Linked DNA regions of Homo sapiens. The protein of the gene in region 1 interacts with the protein of each later gene in a pairwise test. Each region holds a gene or a part of one and is shown on either strand. Other genes may lie near its edges. The genes, in order: STAM2, SH2D4A, COL26A1 and ENTREP1.

Region 1 (7,383 bases):
GACCTCGTGATCCGCTCACCTCAGCCTCCCAAAGTGTTGGGATTACAGGTGTGAGCCACTGCACCCAGCCTTATGCCCAGCTTTTTTTTTTTTTAAAGACAGGGTCTTGCTGTGCTGCCCAGGCTGGTCTCAAACTCTTGGCCTCAAGTGATCTTCCTGCCTCAGCTTCCCAAAGTGCTGGGATTATAGGCATGAGCCACTGTGCCTGTCCCTTATTGTCCTTTAAAAATAGGAGCGGCCAGGCGCAGTGGCTCAAGCCTGTAATCCCAGCACTTTGGGAGGCCGAGGCGGGTGGATCATGAGGTCAGGAGATCGAGACCATCCTGGCTAACATGGTGAAACCCCGTCTCTACTAAAAATACAAAAAATTAGCCGGGCGTGGTGGTGGTGGCCTGTAGTCCCAGCTACTCGGGAGGCTGAGGCAGGAGAATGGCGTTAACCCAGGAGGCGGAGCTTGCAGTGAGCCGAGATCTCGCCACTGCACTCCAGCCTGGGCAAAAGAGCAAGACACGGTCTCAAAAAATAAATAAATAAATAAAAATAAAATAGGAGCAACACTGAAGGGGGTAGACTTTCAGGGTTTTGAGCTTTTAACTTGGTTCTGCTCCCTTATTTCTCAGCTCTCTATCTGAAGTCATAGGGAGAACCTGTAGTGAAAGGAAAACAAGGGATAGGGCTTAGTATTCCATCATCATCCCTTTCTAGTGGTATTTATTGAATTAATATATAAGCAGCACAAGAAGAAAAGATTAGATAGGACCAAAATAAGAAGGAGAATATAAACTACTTCTTTTCTGCCTCTGCCAGAGAAGTGCAGTAGCAGCAGGACTTTTCCTAGTCACCAGAGATTGTCGTCTTTGTTCCAGGGGACATTTTAAAAATAAATTTGTTGTGTTTTCTAAAGAAATGAAAAATCTGTGTGGCAATTAACAGTAGTTTTGCCATATTTTAGAGAAAGCATTAAATATCTCGTTACACATCTACTTTGTTTCAATGCAGCATGTTAATGTTCAGTGAATAATCAAACTGGAAAAGATTAAAAAGTATTATGATAGATGTGGCTGTATGTTTAGTTCAGACACAATTTTTTTTAATTTTTTGTATTTTCAATTTGAAGTTGGTTGAGTGCACGGATGCAGAACCCATGGACATGGAGGGCTGAGTGTATGTCCACACATTCTACAATGGAAATCATTGTCCTTGATAATTATCCCTTGATATGAGCAGATATTATATAATGAAAAAAGGCAGAAACTATGACAATTTAATCTTATTTTTGGTTCATAAAAAGAATTTTGTTAAAGGAAAAGATCTAGAAGAATTAGAAGTCAGATTGAGGCCAGTGTGGGGGCTCACACCTATAATCCCAGCATTTCAGGAGGCTGAAGTGGGAGAATCATCTGAGCCCAGGAATTTGAGACCAACTTGGGTAATACAGTGAGACCCCATCTCTACAAAAAAATTTTTTAATGATTAGCTGGGCTTGGTGGTGTGCGCCTGTAGTCCCAGCTCCTCAAGAAGCTGAGGTGGGAAGATCACTTGAGCCTGGGAGGTCAAGGAGGCTGCAGTGAGCCACGGTTGCACCACTGTACTCCAGTCTGGGTGACACAGTGAGATCTGCTCTCAAAAGAAAAAAAAATCAAAGTGACCATTCTGATATTAGTTAATTTTTTGAGTGAGAACTCAACCATTAACCATTTTTCTTACCAGTTTCAGTTTTTGAATAGGCCAACTGGCATTTTTTCTTGTTCTATGGCCACAGCTGCAGATGCAGCTCCTGTTCTGGGAAATGTTTCCTGTTCTTCAACAAATTCTTATTGACTATTATTTACCCTTGTCAAGTATTCAAAGATGAATAAAATATCCTTTTTTCCCTTGAATGGATCATGTTTGTTATTCCTACTAAGAAAAACATCTCTACTGTTAGAAAGTTAAATTGTACATTTCATTTTTGTCATTGTACAGAATGAAATTTTGTAGCATTTTATCAGCCTAAGAAATTATATTGAGTAAACATGTAAATTGACTCCATAAAAGTTTAGGTAGATTTGTTGAAGAGAGATTCATAGTCTGGACTTAACTATGTTCCAGACTATTCTAATCTTATTTCCTCCTGTCCTCCAAAGGTAATTTTCTACCACCTGATCAAGTTGCTCTTTTGCCTTATTACTCTGGGATTGTGTCTCAAATCTTTAAGGGGATTTCAAACACAGTGATCATGTCTTTCTACTGCATTTTCCTGGTGTTTCATCAGCATGCTGGGTTTTGTGGATCAAATTCCTACGGTTACATTTTAGTTATGCATTTGTTAGCATGGCACTAATTTCTGTAGCTTTCTGGGTGACTTGTAACTGATTTTTTTTTTTTTTAATTTGAGACAGAGTCTCGCTCTGTTGCCCAGGCTGGAGTGCAGTGGTGCAATCTCGGCTCACTGTAACCTCCGCCTCCTGGGTTCACACCATTCTCTTCCCTCAGCCTCAGCCTCCCGTGTAGCTGGGACTACAGGTGCCCGCCACCACACCTGGCTAATGTTTTGTATTTTTAGTAGAGACGGGGTTTCACCGTGTTAGCCAGGATGGTCTCGATCTCCTGACCTCGTGATCTGCCTGCCTCGGCCTCCCAAAGTGCTGGGATTACAGGCATAAGCCACCGCGCCCGGCCTGATATTTTTGATAATAGAGTTTGACCTGCTTAATGCAGTCATTCTTACCAGAGAGAGAAGACTTTTCGTTGTTGTAGTTCAGACATAACAGACTCTAGTAGAGGAAAAGTGACAAATCTTGATAGGACTCAGTCCAGGCTATTTACTTGGTAGTCCTGTGTCTGTCTGTGTGCCTCTGCTTGTTGCCTCTCTGTGTTTATGTAGAAAGAACCACATTCAGTAAAAAGGCTTGTGGATGTTTCAGGCCAGATGAAAAGTGGTTGCTTAGCTTTTGTAAATTTGACAGTGCAAAGAGAGTTCTTTATTACTCCCAGGGGAACTATCAAGTAGAAAGAGTTTGCTCTGAAGCTTCTTGGGCAAATTTGAAGATGCTTTTATTTGGGTTTGTTGTTATTACATAATAAAGCATTGGTTTACTTTCTCAAAATCAACCAACCAACAAATGAGCTGTAGAGATTAGTCTTACTTACACATTGTTTTTACTTGGATTTTCAAGGATAATTATTTAAGTAGGTTTTTTTTTTTTCAGTTGACACTTTCATGGATATAAACAAATGAAAATGTGTGTGTGTGGTTTTTTTTTAACAAGTGTTTTTAAATTTCCATCATATTGTACTTCATAGAGGTTCTGAGCCTTGCCTGGGTACTTTCTTTTATTGAGATTTTTAATTAAGGCCCAGATTCTTACCCAAATTGAGAATTTTCTTTTTAATAATTGAATTCTCAACAAAAAACCTAGAATGTGTGAAAGTAAATTCTCTCAGCACCGAAATTATGAATTGATTGCATTTTATGAGGTGTGGAAGGACTTTTCCCTAATATTATAAAGTCATATTGTCACCAGTAGAGGATTGTGACTGCAAGTTGTCCATGTTCTTAGCATTTTGAACAAAGAATTGGACAAAATGCCCAGCAAAGCAAAGAAAGATGGAAGCAACAAAAGAACAAAAGCAGGGTTTTATTGAAAATGAAAGTACACCCCACAGTGTGGGAGTGGGCCTGAGCAGCAGCTCAAGGGCCAGGATACAGAATCTTCTTGGGTCCAAGTACCCCCTAGAAGTTTCCCATTGGCCTTTTCGTGCTCACCTCATGTAAATGAAGTGGAAGCTCACAATCAGTCTGATTGGTTGCAGAAAGCAGCCAACCAGAGGCTGAAATGAAGTTACAAAGGTAACACTGCTGTGCAAACATCTGATTGGTTGCAAAAAGCAACCAATCAGAGGCTAGGGTGAAGTTACAAAGTTATATTTCTTTGCAAATGAAGACTCCGCCCACAGTCAGTCTGATTGGTTGTGGACAGCAACCATTCAGAGGCTGAAGTTACAAAGTTGCAAATGGAGACTGGACCTGTAATCAGTCTGATTTTTTTCGGACACCCAATTTCCCATCTGCTGCACAGAAAACGTGGGGGGTTTGCAAAGGAAGTAGCCTCTGGTCCTTTTGTTACTTAGGTGTGGAAAGTTAGGGTTGGTTTTCCTTTCAATTTAGTTATAAGAAGTCAGCTTGAAAATCAGCCTTAGATTCCCTGCCTCCAGACCCTATTCTCCTGCCTCAATATCAGCCTAGCTATTACAAGGATTAAGCAGTTCTTCCTCTTAGTTTCCCTTTGTGAATATTCTTTCATTAAATATAAAAAAGCCTTTTAATATATTAATAGAAATTGTGCTAAATTAAAAAAATAATTTATATTACTAAATACATGCTAAAAACTAGAAGAGTATTATAATACTTTTCTTCTACATCAGGAAGCATTCAGAATTGTCTGAATTGAATGTTAAAGTCCTGGAAGCTCTGGAACTATATAACAAATTGGTGAATGAAGCACCAGTGTACTCAGTCTATTCAAAGCTCCACCCTCCAGCACATTACCCACCTGCATCATCTGGGGTTCCAATGCAGGTGAGCATGTTTTTTGAGAACATTTTCTAAATTATAAACAACTTTTAAAAGTAAAAGAAAATGTTTTATAGCATAGTATTAAGATTTCTTTTGTCTGTGAATAAAATTATAAAATTTATCTTTGATTGTTTCAGTAAATATTGGCTAAACAATTAACATTCACCAGAGCAAATTAGACAGATACTGATATTTCACAAATACATTTTAGTTCAGTTTTAACATGGATGAAAAGACCATTAAATATGTGAGGGTAGTTCTGGTTCTTCATATGCTTTTGTAAGTATAAAGCATAAATCTTTTATGTAAACATAAATCCTTTTTGTAAATATGGAGTATAAATCTTTTGATTTAGGACAATACCTGACATATCAGAAGTTCCCCAGGTGAGGTACTAACGCTTTCCTGCTGCTCAACAAGATTTAACATTTCTTTACAAATTTCCATAAAGATTTATTTGACTTACATGATTATTAACAGGCACAATGAACTTCTAGAGTATGCTTTATACTTCCTTTACTTAGCTGCATGACTTACATTGTTAAAAATCTGTGCATAGCAAAGATATGATACATGTCTAGGAGGTACAGACTCCGTAAGCCATCCATGAACATCCATAAGCCATCTTTTTCCAGTACTTTTCACCTTTTTTGTGTGCTTGCCATGTGAAGCGAATACTTACATTTGTCAGTATCCCCATTCGGAAGCGTTTTTTGAAATTTCAGCCAATTAGCCAATTGAATTCAGAATGAGCTTGGATGAGCAAAATTCATGTTAATTTATGAAAACTGGTATGTAAAGGTGCATGTGAAGGAGACACCAAGGAGAAAGGGTAGAATGTGGGTGCATAATTTAGATGACTTGACACAACATAATTGTTAAGTAAAAAAAGAATAGTCACTATGGTAACTGTCACGTCAGACAAGATACATTTATCAAATATGCCATGCCTTGATCTTTTTGAAAATTAGGAGGGTAGGAAAGATTTTTCTGGCTGCAAAAGACCTTTGGGATTTATTCAGTTTGCTTCTGTTTTCAGAGTTGTTCGCTGCTGCTGTGAAAGTGGAACAAAACAGCAGTGTCTGCATCATTGTATGATAAAACTTTATGTTTGCTTTTTTGTGTGTCTGTAAAGGGTTATTTGCCATTCTGTGTCAGGTTTTGGTGTTTAGTTGCATTCTACTTACTGCGTTTTGCCAAGCACAACTCATGTCTCTAAAAAGTTAACTTTCTGTTTGATTCCTCACGTAATCTGTACCTACACTGTTCACTCAAGAGCATTTGAAATATTCAAAAGTTTCTATTCTAATTTGACAAAAATATATCTCTACTAGAAGCAGTTGGGGTAACACATTAGTTATATTGTGTAGGCTACTCAGGAACCCTAAACTGCAGAAGACGCTGATTCTCACAGTCTCAGCCTATTGTCAGTAGATTGTTACATGTCTACTAAGGAGGTAATGTGATTGTACTTAATATAGCTTATTTGGCATTTCTAGCATTCTAAATTTTCAGATGAATGGTATTTACTTTAAAAATAGCTTAATTTAAAACTGGATTGATGATCATTATGGTATGATATGATATTAAATGTATGCATTGTTTTGATGCTATATTTAGTAGACAGGTGGTAGACCCTGTCCTTAAGGAGCTGTTGTCCTGAAAATAAGTAGGGCACATATAAATGTCCAAAGAGACCTAAACCATTTTTGCTGTTTCCTGAGGATACATGTCTTTTGCCCATAACTCTTCTTTACTTTTGTCCTGTTTGTCTTAAAGGTAGAGAATAAGGTAGACATTGCCAGGGAAGCCCTGGCACCCTTATACCATTTCTTTTTCAGCTTTTTCTCTCAAGTTTCTTTCTTAGGAAGGAGTTGGATGAGTCATCCAGGGATGAGGGTAAAGAAGGTTATCATTCTTATAGTGACTTTAAGTGATGGTGGGCTTCCCTTCAAGGGAGTGTATAGTTTTCTGTGGCTCTACAGCAAGACATCTTTACTGAGTAATAGGCAACCTGGATAGATTGCAATCCACTACTTAAAAGTACACCACCTGTCTTTCTCCCAGCTCTCTGTAAAAATAAAAGAACAGCCAAACAAATCAAATTTCCATAGATTTGGCACTGTGATTTGACAGCTCTCCACTTTTAGTTCTAAGATGGATAGATTGGTAGAATCAGATTGCTTCCCAAAGAAGTATAGTTTCTTTCCTTTAAGTCTTTTAACATTTTAAATATATTATTAGGCACATGTTTGGGAGATGAGTGAATCAACTTTTTCTTTCTGATTAATAGACATATCCAGTTCAATCACATGGTGGAAACTATATGGGTCAGAGCATTCACCAAGTAACTGTTGCCCAAAGCTATAGCCTAGGACCCGATCAAATTGGTCCACTGAGATCTCTGCCTCCAAATGTGAATTCCTCAGTGACAGCACAGCCTGCTCAAACTTCATATTTAAGGTAAGTTTTGGGAGCTGTGTTAATTTTATATGTGTTAATTTTCCTAGATTTTCAGAATGAGAATATATAGACCCTTATTAAGATGAAGTTACAGAACTGTTTATTCATAATCCTGTGAAGTGGAATGGTGTTACCTTAGCTTTGCTACCCATACTGAGATTATTGCCCGCCCTTAAGCTTACAGTCTGCATCCTTGGGGCAAAAGCTAATTGTCCTTTATGAGACTAAGCCCATGATGTGCTTAGCACTGTGCTATAATCAGCCTGTGAAGTAGTCCCAGACTTATTTATCTGCATGCACTCCTAAAAATTAGAAAACTGTTGTTACTTTGACCCTTAAGAAGGGCGTTTGAACTGTGGAAT
Region 2 (7,383 bases), on another chromosome or scaffold:
GTTCTCTCTGTTACCTCCTTTAAAGCTTTCTTGACTCTGCTCCTCTCCTTTGCTCTCTTCTCTGTGTTTAGCTTTGAAGCCCCAACTGCTCACATGCAGTCCTAGGATTTCTCTCCCCACCTGCAGCAATGCCCCTTTTCCCTAAGAGTTCCTGCCCTGCCCGTAGCCCCTGGAGGCTGTTCTGGAGCTGTTCTGGGCTGTCCTAGCTGAGGTGCTGGAATCCCTCTGCTCTTCCTTTTTCTTCCCCTGGCACAGTGCCACTTGCCATCTTTCTGGGCATCTTCCTCTTGCTGTCAAAAAAAAAATACCGACAGAGAACTACTTAGGTGAAGGCTGAGAGGCTGACATAAAAAAAATATTATTAGTTGGCCTGAGAGAGTGTAATAAAGGGAGTTTTATGAGGTATGACAGCTTTCTAAAGTTAACAAACCATCTGGCATTATGTCAAACAGACAAAGAGCTTGCCAGGAGCTGGCACTGGTGCCCAGCCCCATTTGGGCATGGTGGGATTGACCTTCCCCTCCTTACCTGGAGGCCACATTTGCTGTTTCTCCACAGTGAAAACAGTAAATGGGAATTCTTTGGTAGTGCAGAGTCTGAGTCTGTTCCCTCTGCCCAGCGTCTCTGTTTAGAACATACTGCAGGAGTGTCCACTGTACCAAGAAGGGTAGAAAGGGTCAAAAGAAAGCACGAGCCTGGCTTTGAGCAGCCTGCTTTGGTAATGTATCCCAAGGCCACAGTACAAAAGTCAAGAATACGTTGGACAGAAGACACCTTAATTGGAAACCTCCTTTGACTTAGTGTGAGAGGACAAGACACAATCCCAGTGTGGATGTTTTGCTCATCAAACAGGGCCCAGCACACACACCAGCCAGGTGCCCTCTTCCATGCAGTCAGCACCACTGCTAGTTTGGGGTCTTGACTAGAGGTCCACCTTTGGCCCACAGTTGCCCTGGGTAGGCCTGACAGACTCAGGGATGGTCTCTGTTGGCCTCTCCTAGGTACGCTCCACCTGCCCCCGGTTTAAGGGAGCATGACCGATGTGGCCGCATTTCAGGAGCACTAGGATATAATCTAACCTGGAGGCCAATTGTAAACAAGGGTTATTTAAGTAGCTTCACCAAGTATCATACTACCTGGTTATATTATCTTCTCACAGGCTGGTGTGAATCTCTGAGGCAGCCATATAAGTAAATAATAGGCTAGCAATGATAGCAGTTAACCTCTATTGAACTCCTGTTATGTGGCAGGCACTAGGGGAAGAACTTGGCACAGGTAGCCTGCCTGCCCACAGCAACCCTAGGTAGTAAATATTGGTATTCCCATTTTGCAGATGAGGAAATTGAGTCTAAAGAGTTTAAGAAAGTTGTCCAAGTCACATAGCTCGTAAGTGACAGGGCTAGGATTTGAACTCAAGGTGGTCTAAATCTAAAATACCTCCTTATCTGAGGCAAGAGGATTGCTTGAAGCCAGAAGTTTGAGACCAGCCTGGGCAACAAAGCAAAGCCCTGTCTCTACAAAAAATTTTAAAAATTAGCTGGGCATGGTAATGCATGCCTGCATTCCTAACTACTATGAGCTCACCACTGCACTCCAGCCTGAGTGACAGAGCAAGACACCATTTCTAAAATAAAATAATAAATACAAATAAAATACAATATAAATAAAATAATAAAACCTGCTTTTTACCCACCTATGAAGCCTGTGAATGTAGTACAAATGCCACACCCTTGAGCAGCTGTGGAATTCTGGGTTACAGGGAGATAGTTAGATGTAAGAATTTATGGTGTGAAGTGCTAGCTCTGTTACCCTAAAGGATAATGCAAACAATGAATGCTTGCTTCCCATTTCAGTTTCTTCATTTATAAAATAGGCACATGCAGCCAGGCGCAGTGACTCACACCTGTAATCCCAGCACTTTGGCAGGCTGAGGTGGGTGGATCACGAGGTCAGGAGTTCAAGACCAGCCTGGCCAAGATGGTGAAATCCTGTCTCTACTAAAAATACAAAAATTAGCTGGTCGTGGTGGCAGATGCCTGTAATGGTGAAACCCTGTCTCTACTAAAAATACAAAAATTAGCTGGGCATGGTGGCAGGTGCCTGTAATCCCAGCTACTTGGGAGGCTGAGGTGGGGAACGGCTTGAACCCAGAGGCGGAGGTTGCAGTGAGCCAAGATCATGCCACTGCACTCCAGCCTGGGCAACAGTGTGAGACTGTCAAAAAAAAAAAAAAAAAAAAAAGCACGGGCAAAAAACATACCCCTAATATTTTTAAAACAAATATTTTCACTGAAGCTGCCTCTCACTGCCACCACTGCCATTGCTACCTACAGATGTTCCTGAGCAGTTGGAAGTTCTTTGTCTCATCTGATATATATATATATATTTTCAAAGACCCAAAATACTTTAGTGATGGAAACAGTAATCTGTGACTAAAGATATTTGTTCAATCTGAATTTTTTGTTTGTGTGTTTGTTTGCAGAGAATGGCAAATCGGTTCATTGGAAACTTGGAGCTGATAAGGAAGTCTGGGTATGGGTGATGGGCGAACACCATCTAGATAAACCCTATGATGTGCTCTGTAATGAAATTATTGCTGAGAGGGCCCGGCTGAAAGCAGAACAGGAGGCAGAAGAGCCCAGGTATGAGATCTGCAAACCAACCAGAGACTTAAAGACTCTCCAGACTTTAGAAAACATTGCAAACACACCTCTTGCTCACAGTATCAGGTGGGAGAGTAGGGTTGGGTTGGAGGGTCACAAAAGTCACTTTGGATCTCTTTGGAAGGTTGATTTAGACTTTTGGTCTAAAGACCTTTTGGATCTCTTTAGAAGGTTGATTTAGACTTTTGATCTAAAGTCTTTGATAGCACTAAAGACCTCATGAAAATCTTTAGTGCTGTCAAATCAGCTGCTTCATCTCCCTGCTTGTCATTCCAGTTTTGATCTGTATGAGTGTATGAGTTCCCCAGTGATCACCCGTGGCTGCACTAGAGTCATGTTAGAGCAATGCAGGCCGACGCAGCTGAGTATCAGGAACATATGTGAGAAATGCAGTGACTGTGCAAGCTTCAGGCCTTCCAAGGAGATCACTTAGATACAGGCGGCTGGATAATCAGGCTCTTTAGGTGCCTACCCAGTGCAAGGTACTGGGAATTCAAAGAGAAACAGGGAGCTTCCAGTCTAGGAGGAGAAGTAGACATATGCACAGCTCACTGCGGCCAGTGCAGGCTGTGATTTGTGCTATAATTAAGGTACAAACAGAAAGTTTACCAAGCATAGGTGGGAACCTATCATTCTGATCCACAGACGAGGTGAAATCTGAACCAAACCTTGAAAGGAGTGGTTTTCCAGCTACAGAAGGCCAGGAAGGAAAGTGCAGGCAGAGGGCTTAACCAAGATCCCTAGACTTGACTACGGATGGTTCTTTGGGGAATGATGAGGTCTTCTGAGCATTTGGAATACACTTGGACAACTGCTTCAGAGGCCAGATTTAGGAGTTTGGAACTTATTCTCTGGACGGTGAGGTTTTTCAATAGGGAAGTGACATCAACTGCAGATGTAGGAAGGTAACTCGGAGGGAAACTGAGGCAGGTGATGGCGCTCCTCTGCTGGGTACCTGGGGTGCTCTGGGTGTCCTCCTCTGGCTCTGGGCAGTGATGTTGACAGCCTTACCCTGAGGTGGTGAAGTGGAAATTGGGACAGACATGAGGACCACCGTTCAGTTCCCAAGGGCTAGGGATGCAAAGCAGACTCTGTGGCACAGTGGATGGTGCATTGGACTTTCAAGGGCTGGGATGCTGCCCACTAGTGCCTGTAACTTTAAAACTATCCATGGACATATGAAGATAAAGGAATTATTTAATCATCGATTGGAAGCAGACGGTGTGGTTCTAATAGGTTAACTTCTAAACCAGGAGTTGAGCAGACCAGGGTTCAGATCTTGGCTGTACCACTATGTGGTCTTGGATGAATTACAAAATTTCTTGGAGCTCTTATAACAAAGTGAGGATGACAATGCCTTCCTCACAGGGTTGTGATGAGGATGAAGTTAACGTCTTTACACACCTAGCAAAGGGCCCAGCATGTTAGAAGCACTCAGTAAGTGGTGTCAGTTACTGTTTTTCACATAATTTGAATGTCGACATATGCTTTGGAAAGGCTCTTCCTGTTGAAGAATGTTTTTTGAGAATTTCACTTTTGCCTCTCTTCAGAAAAACTCACTCTGAAGAATTCACCAATAGCTTGAAAACAAAATCACAGTACCATGATCTGCAGGCTCCGGATAACCAGCAGACTAAAGACATCTGGAAGAAAGTGGCAGAAAAGGAGGAACTGGAGCAAGGATCGAGGCCAGCACCAACCCTGGAAGAAGAGAAAATCCGAGTGAGTCCTTACTGTCTGTAGACGTGCGGAATTTCATCATGGGGGAGAAAAAGCTATTGAGGCCACAGAGACTACTGTGGCTGAGTGTCAGGATCCTCCAGTGGCTTTCTTGGGAGAAATGCCTCCTAACTTTAAGATCCTCCAGGGCAGGCACGGTGGCTCATGCCTGTAATCCCAGCACTTTGGGAGGCCAAGGCGGGCGGATCACGAGGTCAGGAGATCGAGACCATCCTGGCTAACACGGTGAAACCCCGTGTCTACTAAAAATACAAAAAAAAAAATTAGCTGGGCGTGGTGGCGGGCGCCTGCAGTCCCAGCTACTCGGGAGGCTGAGGCAGGAGAACGGCGTGAACCTGGGAGGTGGAGCTTGCAGTGAGCCGAGATTGCGACACTGCACTCCAGCACTCCAGCCTGGGCGACAGAGCGAGACTCCATCTCAAAAAAAAAAAGATCCTCTTGCTCATGTCACTTGGGGGATTTACCTTCCATGCTACATCATGGAAAATAAAGCACCCCTATTTCATGAGACTGAAAGTAACAAGAACGCTAGGAATGCAATTTGGCATTTTAAGATATTTTCAGGTTCTCCTCAATGCTGCCCCATTATATGTCTTCTGTTACAGCAGAGGTTGGCAAACATTTTCTGTAAAGTGCAACATAGTAAATGGTTTAGGCTTTATGGGCCATGCCATCTTTGTCACAGCTATACACAAATGAATGAGCATGGCTGTGTTCCAATAAAACTTTATTTTCAAGCACAGGCTGAGGGGCAGATTTGGCCTGTTCATGATTTAGATTACATTCTACTGAGTCTTAGCCTTTTTGTTGCGGATTCTAAACATCAGTGCCTGTTGGGCTTCATTGGCTCTGCCTGTGACTTGGGGACAGTTACCTCCCCAACATAATAGAAATTTTATACTCAGAATTGGTATGAATTCTCTTATGGTTCAGATGGTTTAAAAAACTCAAACATAATTTGCTGGTTGGATTATAGTTTGGGAGAACAATGAAACACCTTATTATTCTACCAGGAATTTAATTACACTGAGAATTAACAGGGATTTGCAGTTGTTTGATTTCCATTTATGTCTCCAGCCCTGCAGCACTGGCTGTGTGTGCTTTTGACTTCTTTGAGGCTATCATATGGGAATACAGGTATCTCCTGCCTCCTCCTAGGACCTAGTGAGACTCTGATAACTAACATGGTCAGGGGTTATTCCACAGCAAAGCACACTGCTGAGTGTCTCATGTAATCCTCACAATAACATGAACTAGAGACATTTGTCCATTTTACAGCTGGGGAAACTGAGGCTAGGTGTGGTTAAGCAACCTGCCCAAGGTCTTATTCAAACCCAGGTCTGCAGGACCCCCAGGCTATTCCTTAAATATTAACTACTAACTCCTTAATTCTTAACTCTCATGTTTGGTTGTGTCATTAATATGAGGGCTATGAAGAAGCTTTTTATGAAGGGCTACAAATATGAGGCTCAAAATATTTAGGAAGAGAAAATTCTAAATTTGGTTTTTCATCTCAAGGTCAGCCCTGGACATGCTCCCCACATCCTCATTGAGGCCTCCCGTCCTCCCCAGGTGTGCTTTGCACTCAGCATGTGTAACACTAAACTCCCCCAACACGGCTCCCCTTCCCACACCCCTCCAACCAAGAACAACAGTAATAACAAGAAAGCTCCTTCCAGAGTATTAATTATGCAGCTGAGTGTGTTTGCTCACACTTGTAATCTCAGTGCTTTTGGAGGCCGAGGCAGGAGGATCCCTTTTGAGGCCAGGAGTTCCAGACAAGCCTGGGCATAATCCTGCAGAGACAGTGAGACCCCCATCTCTACAAAAAATTAAAAAAAAACAGCCAAGCATGGTGGTGCATGCCTGTAGTCCTAGCAACTCAGGAGGCTGAGGCAGGAGGATCGATTGAGCCCAGGAATTTGAGGCTGCAGTGAGTCCTGATTACACCACTGTACTGTAGCCTGGGGGACCAAGTGAGACCCTAAGTCTTAAAAAAAAGTATTAAGTATGTATGCTTATATTTGTGCTTGAATTACAGTACTTTTTTAGACCTTTTTTTTTCAAAAGTAGGACAAAAGATTAAAATGGAAATTAAAATAGATACCACAGTTATTATTCTTTAACCATCTCATAAATATTATATTGAGAGTGGCACTGTTGCCTTCCTTAGGTGCCTGCTAAACTGACATATGGAAAGAGATGGGGGCAGGGGAGAAAGAAATATTCAGATAGAAGGAATATGGAAATAGATGGGTGACAGGTTTTTATATTCCTGCTTTTTATCTTTCCCTGTGTCAGAGAAGATGCTGTCAGGGGCTCCTGTGGTATTTGCTGAAGTTCACTCTGACAGCAGGCCACACAGCGAGGAGCCTGATTTCACAGCTAGTGTGAGCCTTTAAAGAGGTCGTCTGCTACCTCTCAGACAACTGACTCGATGGTACATTTATATTTTTATTGTAAGTTGTGTATATGTCACTATAGTGGTCTGAATATTTATCCCCCGAAATTTATGTCCACCTAGAACCTCAGAATGTGAGCTTATTTGGAAATAGATCTTTGCAGATGTAATTAAAGTAAAGGATCTCAAGATGAGATCACCCTGGATTTAGGGTGGATCCTAAATCCCAAGACAAGTGTCCTTATAAGAGGAGAGCCAAGGAAAATGTGAGAGAGAGTGTACTAGTCTGTTTTCATGCTGCTGATAAAGACATACCCAAGATTGGGCAGTTTACAAAACAAAGAGGTTTAATGGACTTACAGTTCCATGTAGCTGGGGAGGCCTCACAATCACTGTGGAAGGTGAAAGGCACGTCTAACATGGCAGCAGACAAGAGAGCTTGCGCAGGGAAATTCCCATTTATAAAACCATCAGATCTCATGAGACCCACTCACTATCACAAGAACACCATGGGAAAGACCCACCCCCATGATTTAACTGCCTCCCACCAGGTTCCTCCCACAACACATGGGAATTGTG
Region 3 (7,383 bases), on another chromosome or scaffold:
GACCAGCTTTTGGCCCAGTCTATAAGAACAGGACTCCCTAAGTGGAGTCAACCCAGAGGCAGAAGGAATCCACAAAGGACAAGTAATTTACCTGGCAGTGACCCCAGGCAGCACTGGGCAGGGAGAGAGGCCAAGAAGGGTATGCCCAGTACAGGTGTGTTCATGGGCAGGTGACCTGTGGGAGCACCTGGGGCTCCATCCCACGCTCCCTCTGGGAGACGGTGGTTTTGAGAACGTTTCAGGGGCAGCCACCTTAGGGCGATGAAGCCAGGCATCTCTCCTGCTCCTCACTGGGTAACACTTACCCGAGGGTACCTCTGTCTCAGCAGGCTCATGCCAGCTCCTGTGGCTGGAGAAAGCCCTTGGCAGAGTTGCAGGTGGCCACAGGCAAAAGCCAAAGCCAGGTGGGGCTGAAGGGTGCGTGTGGGGCGCCAACAGTGTCTGCCCCGATGGGGACAAGCCCCGTTCTCACCCAGAGGGCTTGGTAAGCAGGCTCTGGTGTTTAGCCAGAGGGGCTCGACCTGAGGGAGGACAGGTCTGGAGGGATGAGGCAGCCTCCAAATATCTACAAAGCCTCTTGGGACAGCAGGGTTGGCTGCACTGCCTGGCCCCCCAGGGGAGAGCCAGCACCAGGAGGCTGGAATCACCTGAGCCTGAGGCAGAGCTCTCTCCGGGGAAGAACTGTGGTGACCAGAGCACGTGGCATTGTCCAGAGAGAGTGTGTGAACAGGGCCACGTGGCAGGGAGGACCAGGGACCTGAGACGGTGGGGCTGGAGCCCCAGGCAGCAAGAACCCCTAGAAGAGAGCAGGGCCAGGGTCAGCCATGCCTCCACCCAGAAGAGCACACATACACACGCATGCATACCCACATAATACATGTGCACACACATGCACACATAGGCACCTGTGCACACACATCTGTGTGCATGTGGAGACACACATACATATATACACATACAGACACACACATTTGCACATGTGCACACAGACACATGCACACACACAAAAACAGGGACACACATATGTAATACCCATGGTCACATGCACGGATACTCAGGCATACATACACACACACACAAGCATGCATGTCAATGGGCACACATACATATACACACACACACACACACACACATGACACAACTGTGCACACATTAACACACACAGCCCTTGACAACTCCACATTACCCTTGGCCCTGACTTCCGCCCTGGGGGTTGCAGGTGAGTGTGGCTTGGAGTCAGACATTTGTGGGACCACCACCCGCCAGCTGGGTGACTCTCTCAGAGCCCCCTTCCTCATCTGTAGAATGGATCAGAGCATCAGCCCTGCAGGGCTGTTGAGAGCCTCCAGGGAGATGGCAGTGGGAACCGGCTTTGGAAATGGTCTAATGCTGACCAGGAGTCAAGGATTAGTGCTGTCACCCACGCCAGCCACGTCACTGTTCCCGCCTTACAGATATGAACACAGGTGTGCGGGAGACATCTGTGCAGAGCAATGACGGGGAGCCCCACGGCATGCATTCGCGGCTTCCCTTGTCCTCCAGCCCTTCCATGGGCGGGCAGGGTCTCCCAGCAGCCCAGGCCCCTGGGCACAGGCCTGGGATGGGAGAGACCCAGCTGCTCTCCTTGGAGTCTTAGCTCTTGTGGGGCAGGATTGGAGGGCTCCAGGGAGCAAATGTTTCCACATGGGCTGAGCCGGGGCCAGGACCCCCTAGAATGAGTATAGGGGAAGATGTTGAGCCGGTAAGCTTCTGGCACCTGAGATTTTAGAAAAGGCAGGGTCCCCGAGCCATGCCCAGCCTGATGGACATTTTCCTAGTACCGGAAGCCTCTGTGTGGTTTGGCACAGAGCAGCAGCCCTGGCCTCAGCCCAGTATTGTGGGTGTTAAAAGTCGCAGCTCTAGGGTAGGATGGCCACATTGCCAGCTGTCCCCCACCCACCTGGCCCACATCCTCCCATCATGAGCAATTCCTCCCTGTGGTCTTCCCGGCCCTGACACCCTCTCCACCAAGGGCCCCAGCTCCATGGCCTCCAGCAGCAGGCCCGGGGCAGAGCTTTGTCCTGTGACCCTGAGTGAGAGGACTGTGTCCTCTCTGTGTGCCTCGAGGGCTGGAGGGAGGGACAGCAGTGCGTGGGAGGAGCCCAGGCCAAGATTCCCACCCTTCCTCCACTCCATCTTGGCCAGCCCTTCCCTCTGGATCTCAGTCGGATGGCCTGGAAAATGGAAATTGGAGTCACTTCGTTTTGAGGCTGGTCCAGAGTGGGGAAGCTCAGGCAGCTCTCGAGTGGGGAGCTGGGGTTGGTAGCTTGGGCCTGGAGTGTGCAGAGATGGGGTAGCTCTGCAGCCCCCGTCCTTTTGACAGTTGTCTGCATTTCTAAGTAGGGGCTGGGAGACTCCTATCTTAGCTCCCCCGTCTTGTCTGGAGCACCTTCTGGCCGCCCACCTGCCCACTCCATGCCCACGTATGTTGAGAGGGCCTCTAGGAGGTTTTTTTAGACAAGGTCTCGTGCTATCTCAGTGTGGTGGCGTGATCTCAGCTCACTGCAACCTCTGCCTCCTGGGACAGGTTCAAGTGATTCTCCCGCCTCAGCCTCCTGAGTAGTTGGGATTACAGGTGTGATCCACCACATCCGGCTAATTTTTGTATTTTTAGTAGAGACGGGGTTTCCCTATGTTGGCCAGGCTGGTCTCAAACTCCTGACCTCAAGTGATCTGCTCGCCTTGGCCTCCCAGTGTTGGGACTACAGGCATGAGCCACTGTGCCTGGCCCCACTGGCAGCTTTGATGGCCCAGATCAGAGGGCCCTGAGAGGCAGCGGCCTGGAGAGGGGAAGGGAACACCAGCTGGGCTAGTTGCCAAGACAGCCCAGCGGCACCAGAGGCCATGCCGAGGTCAGGCGAGTCTGCAGGAGCCAGGACACGGAGCTGGGTTTTCAGCTTAGATCAGAGGCTAGGGGTCAGCCAGGGCAGAGGCTGGGATCCTAGCAGGGTGAAGGCAGAGCCAGGACAGGAGCCAGGCAGGCAGATCCCAGACAGGGAAGCAGAAATCAGATGGCTTGCATAAAACAGCAGCAACCCAGAGCCTGGACACTGGGGCTTCTGCTCCCTTAGACAAGAAGTCTGCTTTGGTATGTCGGGAAGGAGGCAAATGAGAGAAACCTGGCCAATGGTAGCTTATTCCATAAGGACATTTATTGTTTATTCCACAAGAAGTCCAGGAGCAGAGGTGGTCTCGGGATTGGTTTGGTGTCCAAAGAAGCCAGGCTCTTCGCTGACTTCTTAGTGAGCTGGTTGATGCCTCATGATTATAAAGTGGCTGCTGCAGCTCCAGGCATCACATCCTCACCTTGTATGTAAAGGCAGGAAGTGGAGGGTGAGGTGAAGCACCCAAACAGACTCCTTACGTTTCATGAGCCTGTGCTGGGGCAATGTGACCACCTCCTGGTTGCAAGGGAGCTGGGAAACTGAGTACCTGGCCAAACAGAAAGGGATGGCTCTGCCTGGCTCAGGCTGGTCCTGATTCCTTTCCTGGGTCACATGTACAGAGTCACAAGAGGGAGTTCTGGGGCAAGAGAAGAAGGGGCATTGGGGGCCAGGCAACCCACAGAGTCTGCTCCATCTGCTCTCCCACTGGTGCAGACCTAGAAGCTGGTCCAGGATTTCTGCCACCCTCTATTCCTGGGACAGGCTGGCAGGCAGAAGGCCAGCAGGGTACCGGGGAAGATTCCTGCTTGCCCTCCCCTCTCCTGCCCCGGGCTTTACTCTCTGACCTCATGGACCACAAACAGTACACAAGAGTCACAGAAGCCTCAGAGTCCCAGCAGTCTCTGGTGCAGAGGGCAGTGTCCCGGCTAGTCTGCCAGGCCACAATGACATCATCAGGGCCACTGCCCCCGAAGGCCGTGGCCTGGTTTTCTTGGCCCCACGCCCATGGCTGCCCACCCGGGTGAGCTCATGCCTGGACAGAAATGGGATCAGTTTCTCCAGGTCAGACACAGCCAGGCCAGGAGGGCTGAGACGCTGGCAGGGGCAGATTCCAACCAGGGCTCCTCTGCCCAGGTCTGCAGGCTCTGTGGGCAGGGGTGTCCCAGTGGGAGGTGCCCCATGAAGGAGAGAGCTAGGCCTTTTGTACTGGCTGGCAGGTCACTTCGGGGGAAGCCAGAGCTTTGCCCAGAATGGGGAACACTAGAGGTTGCCTGTAGGAGGCCAAGGCGGGACCCCTCCCCAGATCTCTCCAGGCTTCACCCTGCTCCCTCCTCCTCCACCCTAGCCTCCCCACACCATCCCTGCCTCCTCTCATGGTCCTCTACCTCCACTTCCCAGCCCTTGGGACCACCCCCTGTTAAATATGGCCATCTGAGTTCCCCTTGGGATACTGCAACCCACCCCCGCCAACTTATCACCTTCACTCCCAAGCCTGCCCCTCTCCCGTGCCCTTGTTCGACTGGGGGCATTTCTACTATTCCCAGCAGCCAGGCCTGAAAGGGGAGACACACTCCAACCTTCACCCCACCTCCTGCCCCCAGCCCCAGGAGCACCAGGGCCTGACGCTCCTCCAAATCCCCTGCGCTGGCCATCCCAGGCCCCTTCCATCACGTGACCTGACAGCCACCGTCTTCTTGCTCCTCTCCAGAGCCCCTAAACTTGGCTGTGGCCCGTCAGCTTCTTCAGGGGTGCCAGTGGCTGGGGCAGGAATCGGAACCCTTCTCTCCTCCTGGAGATTCAGGAGAACGGGGTCCACCCTTCACTGCCGTGTGATCTGAGCCAGCTGTCCCCGCTCTCTGTGCCTCCACGAAGCTCAGCCGGGGTTGAGACAGAACTGTTGGGAGGATAAACTGTGGTTTGGTGGATGAGGCACCACTAGGGGCCCCGGCCTCACCGCCCATTTGCTGGGTGATCTCAGGCAAGTCACTTGCAGTCTCTGAGCCTCTGTCTCCACCTCATTTGTGATGTCGCCGCAGTGACCCTCCCAGTTTCATGGACCCTTCTAAGGACCAGAAAGGGGAGGGGCTGAAAGAATTGGCTCTGGGGGGTTAAGGGGCCCTGGGCCAGGCATCCAGGCCATCGGAGGACTGTGTCCCATAGAGGGGTGGAGGGGGAGCCCGTTCTGCAGCCCACAGCAGGGCCTGAGCCCAGGGGGCCCAGCCAGAACCCTGGGTGCAGGGTCAGAGCCCTGAGCAGCCGCTAAGTGCACCCTGGAGACACCCCTGCTGGGGAGGAGCCCAGAGCAGGCCACTTTGTCCCCAGGGATCCCAGGACTGTCCCCCAGGCCCAGGGGCACTGCAGAACTGGTGAGGGAGCTACTCAGGCAGACCATCTGCCTGTGCACCATGGACTCTCAGCTCAGCCCAGCAGGTCCTTCACGCCCCTCGGCCCCAGGACCCACCCAAGTTCCCAGCAGGGATCTCCACCCACCCTGAGCCTATTTCTGGCACACAGCGCCCCCTGCTGGCCTCTTCGGGGGCAGCAGAGACTCACGGGGCCTCTGAGTCCTGGCTCTCAAGTTGTTTAAAGGAAGGAGAAAGTCTCCCGGTCCCGGGATCTGGGTCTCAGCCACCTTTGACTCCTGCCTCCCTCAAGGAGGGACAGATGGGGCCGCATTGCAGGCTGGTCCCAAGCAATCGTGGCCACTTTTGTTTTTCTGGAAAGTCTTCTAAAGGTCATGTGCCACAAGGGGCCTATTTATACCCACCCTTTCACTCTCCTCCCTCCCTTTCTTCCCTTCCTTTTCTGTCTGTGTGTGTGTGTGTATGTGTGTGTGTGTGTGTGTGTGTGTGCGTATGTGTGTGTGCTTTTTTTTTCTCTCTCTCTCTTTTTGTAGATGTGGTCTCGATCTGTCACCCAGGCTGGAGCGCAGTGGCACAATCATAACTCACTGTAGCCTTGAACTCCTGGGCTCAGCCTCCTGAGTAACTGGGACTGCAGGCGTGTGCCACCACGCCTGGCTAATTTTCTTTATTTTTTGTAGAGATGGGGGTCTCACTGTGTTGCCCAGGCTGGTCTCAAACTCCTGGCCTCAAGTGATCCTCCAGCCTCAGCCTCTTAAAGTGCTGGGATTACAGGCATGAGCCACCACTCCCAGCCAGCACAGGGACTTTGACGGTGTCTGAAGGGCACTCCTTGAACCTGAGGGTCCAGAAAGACTTTCCTGATGTCAGAAGGAGGAGAGGGCTGGGATGGAGGGAACCTGGGCCACGAGTGAGGTTCTCCCACTAAGGAGCGTGACGGGGCACACACAGCGTGGACAGCTGCAGGTCTCATGGGGTGCACATGCATGTCCCTGTGTGTCACGCATGTCCCTATGTGTCAGGCCCAACTGGGACCTGACTCTCTATCTCCTTTGGCCCAGGTCCTCCTGCTAGAAGCAGCAGAACGGCCCTCCAGCCCGGACAACGACCTGCCAGCCCCCGAGAGCACTCCGCCGACCTGGAATGAGGACTTCCTCCCCGACGCCATCCCTCTTGCTCACCCTGTGCCACGACAGAGAAGGCCCACGGGCCCAGCCGGTGAGTGAGGGCTGCAGAGAGGACAGGCTGGGGCAGCCGAAGGGACCTTGGGCATGGCCTCCCAGGGCCTCCCTAGAGAGGCCACACACTAGACACTCTAGTTCCAACATGCCATGTGGCATTTTGAAAAATTAAGCTAACAGTTGAAAATGGGTATTTCACCTAAAAGCCAGGATTTCTAGTTTCTCTTAAGAAGTAGACGATCTGGTCAGGTGCAGTGGCTCATGCCTGTAATCCCAACACTTTGGGAGGCCGAGAAGGGTGGATCATTTGAGGTCAGGAGTTCGAGACCAGCCTGGCCAACATGGTGAAACCCTGTCTCTACTAAAAATACAAAAATTAGCCAGGCGTGGAGGCAGGTGCCTGTAATCCCAGCTACTCAGGAGGCTGAGGCAGGAGAATCGCTTGAACCCGGAAGGCGGAGGTTGCAGTGAGCCGAGATCACGCCACTGCACTCCAGCCTGGGGGACAAGAGCAAAATTCCGTCTAAAAAAAAAAAAAAAAAAGTAGACCATCTGGCCGAGCATAGTGGCTCACTCATGCTTGTAATCCTAGCACTTTGGAAGGTCAAGGCAGGTGGATCATTTGAGGTCAGGAGTTCGAGACCAACCTGGGCAACATGGTAAAACCCCCATTTCTACTGAAAATACAAAAATTAGCCCAGCATGATTAATCCCAGCTACTCCTAAGGCTGAGGCATGAGAATTGCTTGAGCTGGGGAGGTGGAGGCTGTAGTGAGCCAAGATCATGCCACTGCAATCCAGCCTGGAAGACGGGGTGAAACCCTGTCTCAAAAAAATAGATGATCTTGGGCAGGTGCAGTGGCTCACACCTATAATCCCAGCACTTTGGAAGGCTGAGGTGGGAGGATTGCATGA
Region 4 (7,383 bases), on another chromosome or scaffold:
GTTTACATTTATGCAGTATACGATGAACCCACATATACCTTTCACCCAGCTTCAACAATGGTTTCATCTGCACCCCCTTCCTGGGCTCTGCTGCTGGCCTTGTGTCTTCTGATAAACTTCAGAAGGATGAATATTCCAAGCAGGGTGGGAATTAGATCCTTCGTGCTCCCTAGTCCATTTGTGAGATTAAATTCTCTTATTGTTTGGAAGCAAATCTCAGGTGTCACATTTCATCTGTATATATTCCAATGTGTGTATTTTTATCACAAGAAAATATAACCAGCATAGGATTGAGTGGGCAGTCCGAAGAACCATTCCCTTCAATTTTAAATCTTTTATTATAAAAATTTAAAAACTCAACAAATGTAGAAAGAAGGGTGTAATGATCCCGCATTTTACCCTTCACCCAGTAGCTATCAACACATGGCCACTTTATACCTAACGCTGCTCCCCCTTCCTAACACCCCTGGATTATTTTAAGGCAAATTCCAGGTATCACAACTTCAGCCATTAGTATTTTAGTATGTACTTATAAAAGAAATGGGCTTGATAGGACATTGTAACTAATTCAAAGACAGCTAAACTAAGGTTTCTATAAAAAAAAAAGTTGGAAGATTATGAGTTGAGAACTGCAGAATTAAAAAAGAACACAGCTTTGACATATATTCACATGCCATACAACTTACCCATTTAGCATTTAAAGTGTACTGGTCAATGGTTTTTAGTAAATTCACAGTTGTGCAACTATCACCACAATTTTAGAAAATGTTTATCAACCCTAAAGTTTTGAGTAGTTACTCCTCATTCTCCACCACCCCCACCCCTAGCCACCCACTGATTAACCCACTTTCAGTCTCTGTAGATATGTCTGTTCTGGATATTTCATATACAAGGGATCATATAATATGTGGTCTTTTATGATTGGTTTCTTTCACTTAGCATGTTTTCAAGCTTCATCCATGCTGCGGCAAGTCTCAGTACTTCATTCCTATTTTATTGTATGGATATGCCATGTTTATTTATTCACTCACAAGTTTTATTGGCATATGAAGCTAGGTAGTTGAATGGAAGTGCCAACTTATGTCTAAGGTTACTTCAAACCCACATAGGAACACAGTAGAAGAATATCCTCATATTTCAAGCTTTGACCATTAGGATCTTTAGCCTGCTATATCAACTGAACCCACACATCTTCTTTAGGCTTCACTGAAAATTTTGCTTGTGTATTTGATACAAAATTAGGTTCAAGAGACAAATATATTTATTTGAAATGACTATTTGTTGAACACAGTATAGTTCAAGGATATTTTTTCATATGTATTTCCTTAAGAGAGCCCTGAGCCTGAGATTTTGGAGGCTTCTTTCACTTGTTTGAACTTTGAAGGTATATTTTATCTATTTTAAAAAACACTTAAGAATTAACAAATTCTATAAAGCATCTTTTTTCATAGTTTTCATTCATACTTTCAGCAACTTGAAGGGAGAGTTTTTAACGTAGTCTGTGTTTTTGAGCACTCTGAGCATTTGATTTCTTCCTGGTATCACCGGTAAATCACTCAATATATTATTATTCCCAAAATTCGTGAAGCTAAGAGATGAGCCATCTTGAAAAACAACCTGGCATTTGACTGGAGGTGAGTGGCTAAGGGAGGATCTCAGTGTCTGTCTTCAGCTGTGCTGTCCTAGCTCTCGGTTTGGGGGGTGCGTTTAGTGTTAACTAGATTCCACTGGGGTGTGGGAGTTAACGAGATTCCACTGGGGTATGGGCGTTAATGTTAACTAGATTCCACTGGGGTATGGGAGTTAACTAGGTTCCACTGGGTTTAATTAGATTCCACTGGGGTATGGGAGTTAACTAGGTTCCACTGGGTTTAATTAGATTCCACTGGGGTATGGGAGTTAATGTTAACTAGATTCCACTGGGGTATGGGAGTTAACTAGGTTCCACTGGGTTTAATTAGATTCCACTGGGGTATGGGAGTTAATGTTAACTAGATTCCACTGGGGTATGGGAGTTAACTAGGTTCCACTGGGTTTAATTAGATTCCACTGGGGTATGGGAGTTAATGTTAACTAGATTCCACTGGGTAAGGGAGTTAGCTAGGTTCCACTGGGGTTAAGTAGATTCCACTGGGGTATGGGAGACTCAGTCGGCCACACTGCACTAGATTTAATGAAAGAGGAGAGAGAGTTGCATTGGGTTGTCTCTCCTCCTTCAGAAACAAAATTCCTACCTTTGATGACATGCATGATCCTTGGGAGATATTTCAGATGAGTGGTAGAGAATTGGTTGTTGTTTTTTACTCCTCTCTGAGTGCCCTATTATTCTTTATCAGTTGTATACATCTATGTCTGTGCTTTAAGTCACTGATCTAAATTCATGATCATCCTTTGAGTCCATGATTCTTTGGCAAGGTTCTACTTTCACGTAAAGAGACAGACATTGGTGAACTTTAGGGTGAACCTTTGTAAAAAAAATCGCAGTGAATAAACATAAAGAAAAATCAATGGACTAAACGAAAAACTAACATAAAGATTATGGTTACTACCAGTTAAATGATAGTAAATATTTTTTATCATACTAATCAAATACTACTTTAATATTTAAGGGATATTTAAACTATAATTTTGGGGATGAGTTTTATTGATTTCTTTGGTCCTTTATTTTGCATATCAGCAGAGTCACCTTTATAAGTTCTGTGCCTCTTGGCCTCAGTTACTCATCTGTCAAATGGGTGGGATGCTTCTTCTTCTTCAGTGCTGATTTTGTCAGGGTGTAGCTAGAGTATACATAGGAGAGTGCATCACTGCTGGACCCAAGCACCAGACCTGGAATACACGGGAACCTGTATCAATGGTTTTTAAATACCGAGGTAATAGTTAATCAAAGTAAAATGAACAGGCCAGTATTTTTGTAGGACATTATAGTTACCATCATGTTTTCATTAGAAATATTCAGTTGCCCACTTTCTCAATTTGTTTTTTTTAATGAGCTGTGCTAGACAGATAGGGAAGAAATACACACACATACACACACATTTTTTAAAAAGTTGCCATTGTAAGAGCTATAGGGCAGGGTAGGTTGTTGAGAAGTTTGACATATTATTTTCTGCTTATTTACAAAGTAACACAGGACATTTACAACATGGCTTTTTAAAAATCTCTGTGTTTACATACAGCAGCTTTTGATAAATGATTCAGAACATTTTTGCCCTAATACAAGTTAATGGATTAGCAAAGGGAAATAGGGCAGTAGAATTATAAGCTTCTGATCTTAACGATTTGGTTTTTACGTTGGAAAATGAAAGCACATTAACCATTTATGGTGGGTAACAATGACTCTTCCCTGGGGTATCTCAGAGCCCTTCTTTGCAGTCTCAGAAAAAAGGAAAGCCCTCTGCTTTTTCCTGTAAGCTACAAGAAATAGGTTATCAGTGAGTGAAACAAAAATTGTAATACCTCTCATAATAATATAGAGATTGTTTGGTGTTAGAAAATAGGTTCTTACCTGTTCATTCAGGGCAAGTTTCATCTTGCGCTGGATGGAAAGAATGCTGATGGAGTTGCTTTTTGTTGCTGCTGTACTCTTTTAGGAAGCACAGGGGATGAAAAGTGTGTTTAGTCTTACATAGTCATCTTTGAGCAATGTCATCTCCTGTTTCTGGCCTCCATTCATTCATTCACTCATTGACTCTTGCCATAACTAACTGAGTGCCTTCTGGGAACCTTTAGTGGTGTGTGAGTGAGTACGCACAGGTCCAAGCCCTCATCGTGATACAGTTAAACATTTGATAGCATTGTGGCATAATGGGAGCCATGGAAGGACATTGTTAAGGGACCTTCTTGGCTCATTTCTGATGGAGCTCCAGCTACTGCTGCCACCAAGGGAGGTGGAGGCATTGAATACTCTGTCTCCTTCTCTTCTTCTTTTCCCAACCCCTTTCCCCGTCTGTGAATTCTGCCTCCCTTTCAGATGAAATGGAAGCATCATTCCTTAAGTCTTGAGCTCTTAAAAAATTTATCCCCAACTGTAGCACCTCTGTTCCCATTACCATTCGAGAGGCTTCTAACCATCCAGGCCTACTTCCTCTATTTGCTTTTCTCCCCATCACCACTCACAGGGTTCCCCAAGTGCCTCAGGGCTTCACTGGGCTTGAAGAGAGGGAGAAGTTGAATAAAAGTAGGTGTGTGCCTTTGTTGCGGGGTTCAGGAATGAAGAGCTGCAACTATAGCTCCCGCCTGGAGCTGGAATATAGTTTCTTAAAACATTGTAAAGAGCGGTGGCTTACAAGAATCCTGGTGGGATTTAACTTGAATATGTGCTGAGTCTGTAAAACAATTTAAATGGAAATGACATTCTTAGTTTGTCTTCAATCCATAGACTTGGTATATGCCTTGACTGACTTGGCTATTCATTTAATATTGCGCAATAAACTTTGTATTTCTCCCCAGTGAGGCCTTAAAGATCTTTGTCATATACATTTTGAGATTATTGATGTTTCTCATTTGTCATGTATTTGTACATATATACATTTTGTACATATTTTTTAACTTACATTTTCTATAGTTTGTTGCTACCATATGCAAACAAAATACCTCCCCTCCAAAGGAAGAAATAAAGATAGCTTAGTTCTTTGGTTTCAGAGACACCTCATTTGAAATGACAGTTGACTCTGTCATGATCTATTAAAATAAAAAGAATAGAAATACCTTTCAACTTAGAAACTTCACTCCTGGGACTTTTTTCCGCTGAAATAAAAGCACTTGTTTTTAAAGATATATGTTCATAGATGTTTACTGCAGCATTGTTTGTGACAGCAAAAAACTAGACATAGAATGAATGCCCATTAATATGGAAATGATTGAATACGTTAAGTACAGCCACACGATGGAATGTTATGTAGTCACTAAAGTAAAATGAATTAGAGCTGTTCCAATGCACATGAAGAGATTTCTATGAAGTATTTATTGAGAGAGAAAAGGAAGAGGCAGGGAAAGTATATCTTTTATGATTTTTTTACAAAAATTACATCCCTGTGAGTGTGTATATATACACATAGACATGTGTGTGTAGTAAGAATTTAGAGAAAAATACATATATATGTAAAATATGTAAACGTGCTAGATTGTTAACATGGAGGAGGGTGGGGTGATGTGGCTGTGTAGGTGAGGGGGGCAGAACAGTTTAGGCATATTGCTATTTTATGGGCTTTTATGGCTGGGGCTGGACACTTCCTTTTAATAATATTATTATTTTTTTTTTGAGATGGACTCTGTCACCCAGGCTGGAGTGCAGTGGTGTGATCTTGGCTCACTGCACCCTCTACCTCCTGGGTTCAAGTGATTCTCCTGCCTCAGCCTCCCAAGCAGCTGGGATTATAGGTGTGTGCCACCAAACCCAGCTAATTTTTGTACTTTTAGTAGAGACAGGGTCTCACCGTGTTGGCCAGGCTGGTCTCAAACTCCTGACCTCAAGTATTCCGCCTGCCTTGGCCTCCCAAAGTGCTGGGATTACAGGTGTGAGCCACTGCGCCTGGCCAATAATATTGTTTTAATAGAAAAAATACATTCCAAAAAGCTGAACCGCAGGGTTCTCTATTAATGGAGACCAGTAGCATTAATGTCAAACGCTAACTAATAATTCAAATCATATTTTTTACTGAATTGGGAGATTTGTGTTTTCCTTAAGGGCAGTTGAATATGAAGTTATGTTTTCACAAGAACAGCTTGAATTTCCTCAGCTAAGTCCAGTAGGCACCGGAGTGGGCAGGTGGGATGCACATGCACAGAGGGATACACACATGCACACACATGTGCACACACATGCAAGCACATGCATACACACATACATGCACAAGCATACGTGCCTACACCCTGAGTCACAGATTTCTGAGGAATCACTGTCATCACTATAAGGTAAGTCTTTTGAGCTAGAAGAGACCAAGAGATGGTTTCCTTCCCTTACAGCATTTCTAAAGAAATAAGTGAGGACCAGACAAGTGAAATGACTTGGCCAAGGTCTCATAGTTAAGTCTTTAGAAGCTGAGTGGGAGCCTGGAACCCAGGACCTCATGGATTGCAGTCCCAATTTGTAAAGTAGGTACAACTCACACACTGTGAGTCACACACGCCCTGCCCTGTGTCTTCAGGCAGAAATTGTTTAGGGTAAGGAAATATCCTATTGGATTTAAAGGGATTGCAAGGTTAAAGTGCCTGGTGGGCAGGCAGCTAGTAGTACCTTTAAACATAGATGGCACACAAAGAAATTGTCACCTATCTGCCTGTATATGGTTTTTGATCCTTGATATAAGTGGGTAGACTTGTCCTATGCTGGTCTGATGCTGCAGAATGATTACTCTCAGCTAGTGAGAATGGAGAATATTGCAAGCAGGCCTGTGGGTTTTGAATTTGAAGGGACACTGTCAAGTCCTTACTGATCTGTAGTTGATAAACACTGATTGTGAAATGGTGCATTTGAGCAATTTGAACAAGTATAATGTGCTTGTAGAGGAAAACCTTCATGGCTGCCTTTGGCAGACACACTTTATTTTACAAAGCTCAGAGTGCTCAAATGGCATCAGCACATCCCAGGCTGAAAAATTACTTTGATTATCATTTCCCAATTGTTTATCAAACTGTGTTATCCAAAGGGCTGACCTTGGTTTCCAGTTTATGTTTTGGCAAAATAGTGGCCCTTTCCTTTCCTTTTCTTTTTTTTTTTTTTTTTTTGAGACAGAGTCTCATTCTATCGCCCAGGCTGGAGTGCAGTGGCGCGATCTCAGCTCACTGCAACCTCTGCCTCCTGGGTTCAGGCGACTCTTGTGCCTCAGCCTCCCAAGTAGCGTCACCATGCCCAGCTAATTTTTTGTATTTTAGTGGAGATGGGGTTTCACCATGTTGTCCAGGCTGGTCTCAAAGTCCTGGGCTCAGGCAGTCCACCTGCCTCGGCCTCCCAAAGTGCTGGGAGTAACAGGAGTGAGCCACCGCGCCCAGCCTGTTTTTTCTTATTGAGATTTTTTAGCTCGTTTTTTATTGAAGTGTCATTTTGCAACATGAGCTCCTTCTCACAGTAGTTCCTCCCACTTTGTGGAATAAATGCTCTAGAACATATATTAATTGCCAACAATTGGGGCACAATGCTGGGAACTAGGACTTTAGAGAGACAAGACAGGAGTTCACAGTTAGTAGGTAATTCAGAGACACATCCCTCAATTATTACAATAGAGTTTTTGGAAAAAAAGAAATGTGTGCAGAGGGCTTCCATGAGTGTGGAGCGGTGGAATCAGTGAGGGCTTCTCAGGGCAGGTGACTGCTAAATGGGGCCTTGCAGGATGGATAAAAGTTCTCAGGCAGCTAGGAGGGAAGCTGGGAGGACACAGCACT

The links.
Region 2: the proteins of STAM2 (region 1) and SH2D4A interact in binary tests that used the Homo sapiens proteins (3 or more experiments, as listed by UniProt).
Region 3: the proteins of STAM2 (region 1) and COL26A1 interact in binary tests that used the Homo sapiens proteins (3 or more experiments, as listed by UniProt).
Region 4: the proteins of STAM2 (region 1) and ENTREP1 interact in a two-hybrid assay, tested with the Homo sapiens proteins (2 studies listed by BioGRID and IntAct).

The regions. Positions count from the first base shown.
Region 1 is NC_000002.12:152,123,404-152,130,786, reverse strand, and holds part of STAM2 (signal transducing adapter molecule 2), read left to right. Parts: intron 1-4,407; coding exon 4,408-4,561; intron 4,562-6,851; coding exon 6,852-7,021; intron 7,022-7,383.
Region 2 is NC_000008.11:19,330,473-19,337,855, forward strand, and holds part of SH2D4A (SH2 domain-containing protein 4A), read left to right. Parts: intron 1-2,482; coding exon 2,483-2,642; intron 2,643-4,213; coding exon 4,214-4,385; intron 4,386-7,383. UniProt on the Homo sapiens protein: Inhibits estrogen-induced cell proliferation by competing with PLCG for binding to ESR1, blocking the effect of estrogen on PLCG and repressing estrogen-induced proliferation. May play a role in T-cell development and function.
Region 3 is NC_000007.14:101,533,545-101,540,927, forward strand, and holds part of COL26A1 (collagen alpha-1(XXVI) chain isoform 1 precursor), read left to right. Parts: intron 1-6,348; coding exon 6,349-6,505; intron 6,506-7,383.
Region 4 is NC_000009.12:69,328,066-69,335,448, forward strand, and holds part of ENTREP1 (endosomal transmembrane epsin interactor 1), read left to right. Parts: intron 1-1,259; exon of another isoform or gene 1,260-1,634; intron 1,635-5,515; exon of another isoform or gene 5,516-6,096; intron 6,097-7,383. UniProt on the Homo sapiens protein: Functions as an activator of the E3 ubiquitin protein ligase ITCH in the ubiquitination of the CXCL12-activated CXCR4 receptor. Thereby, triggers CXCR4 endocytosis and desensitization, negatively regulating the CXCL12/CXCR4 signaling pathway.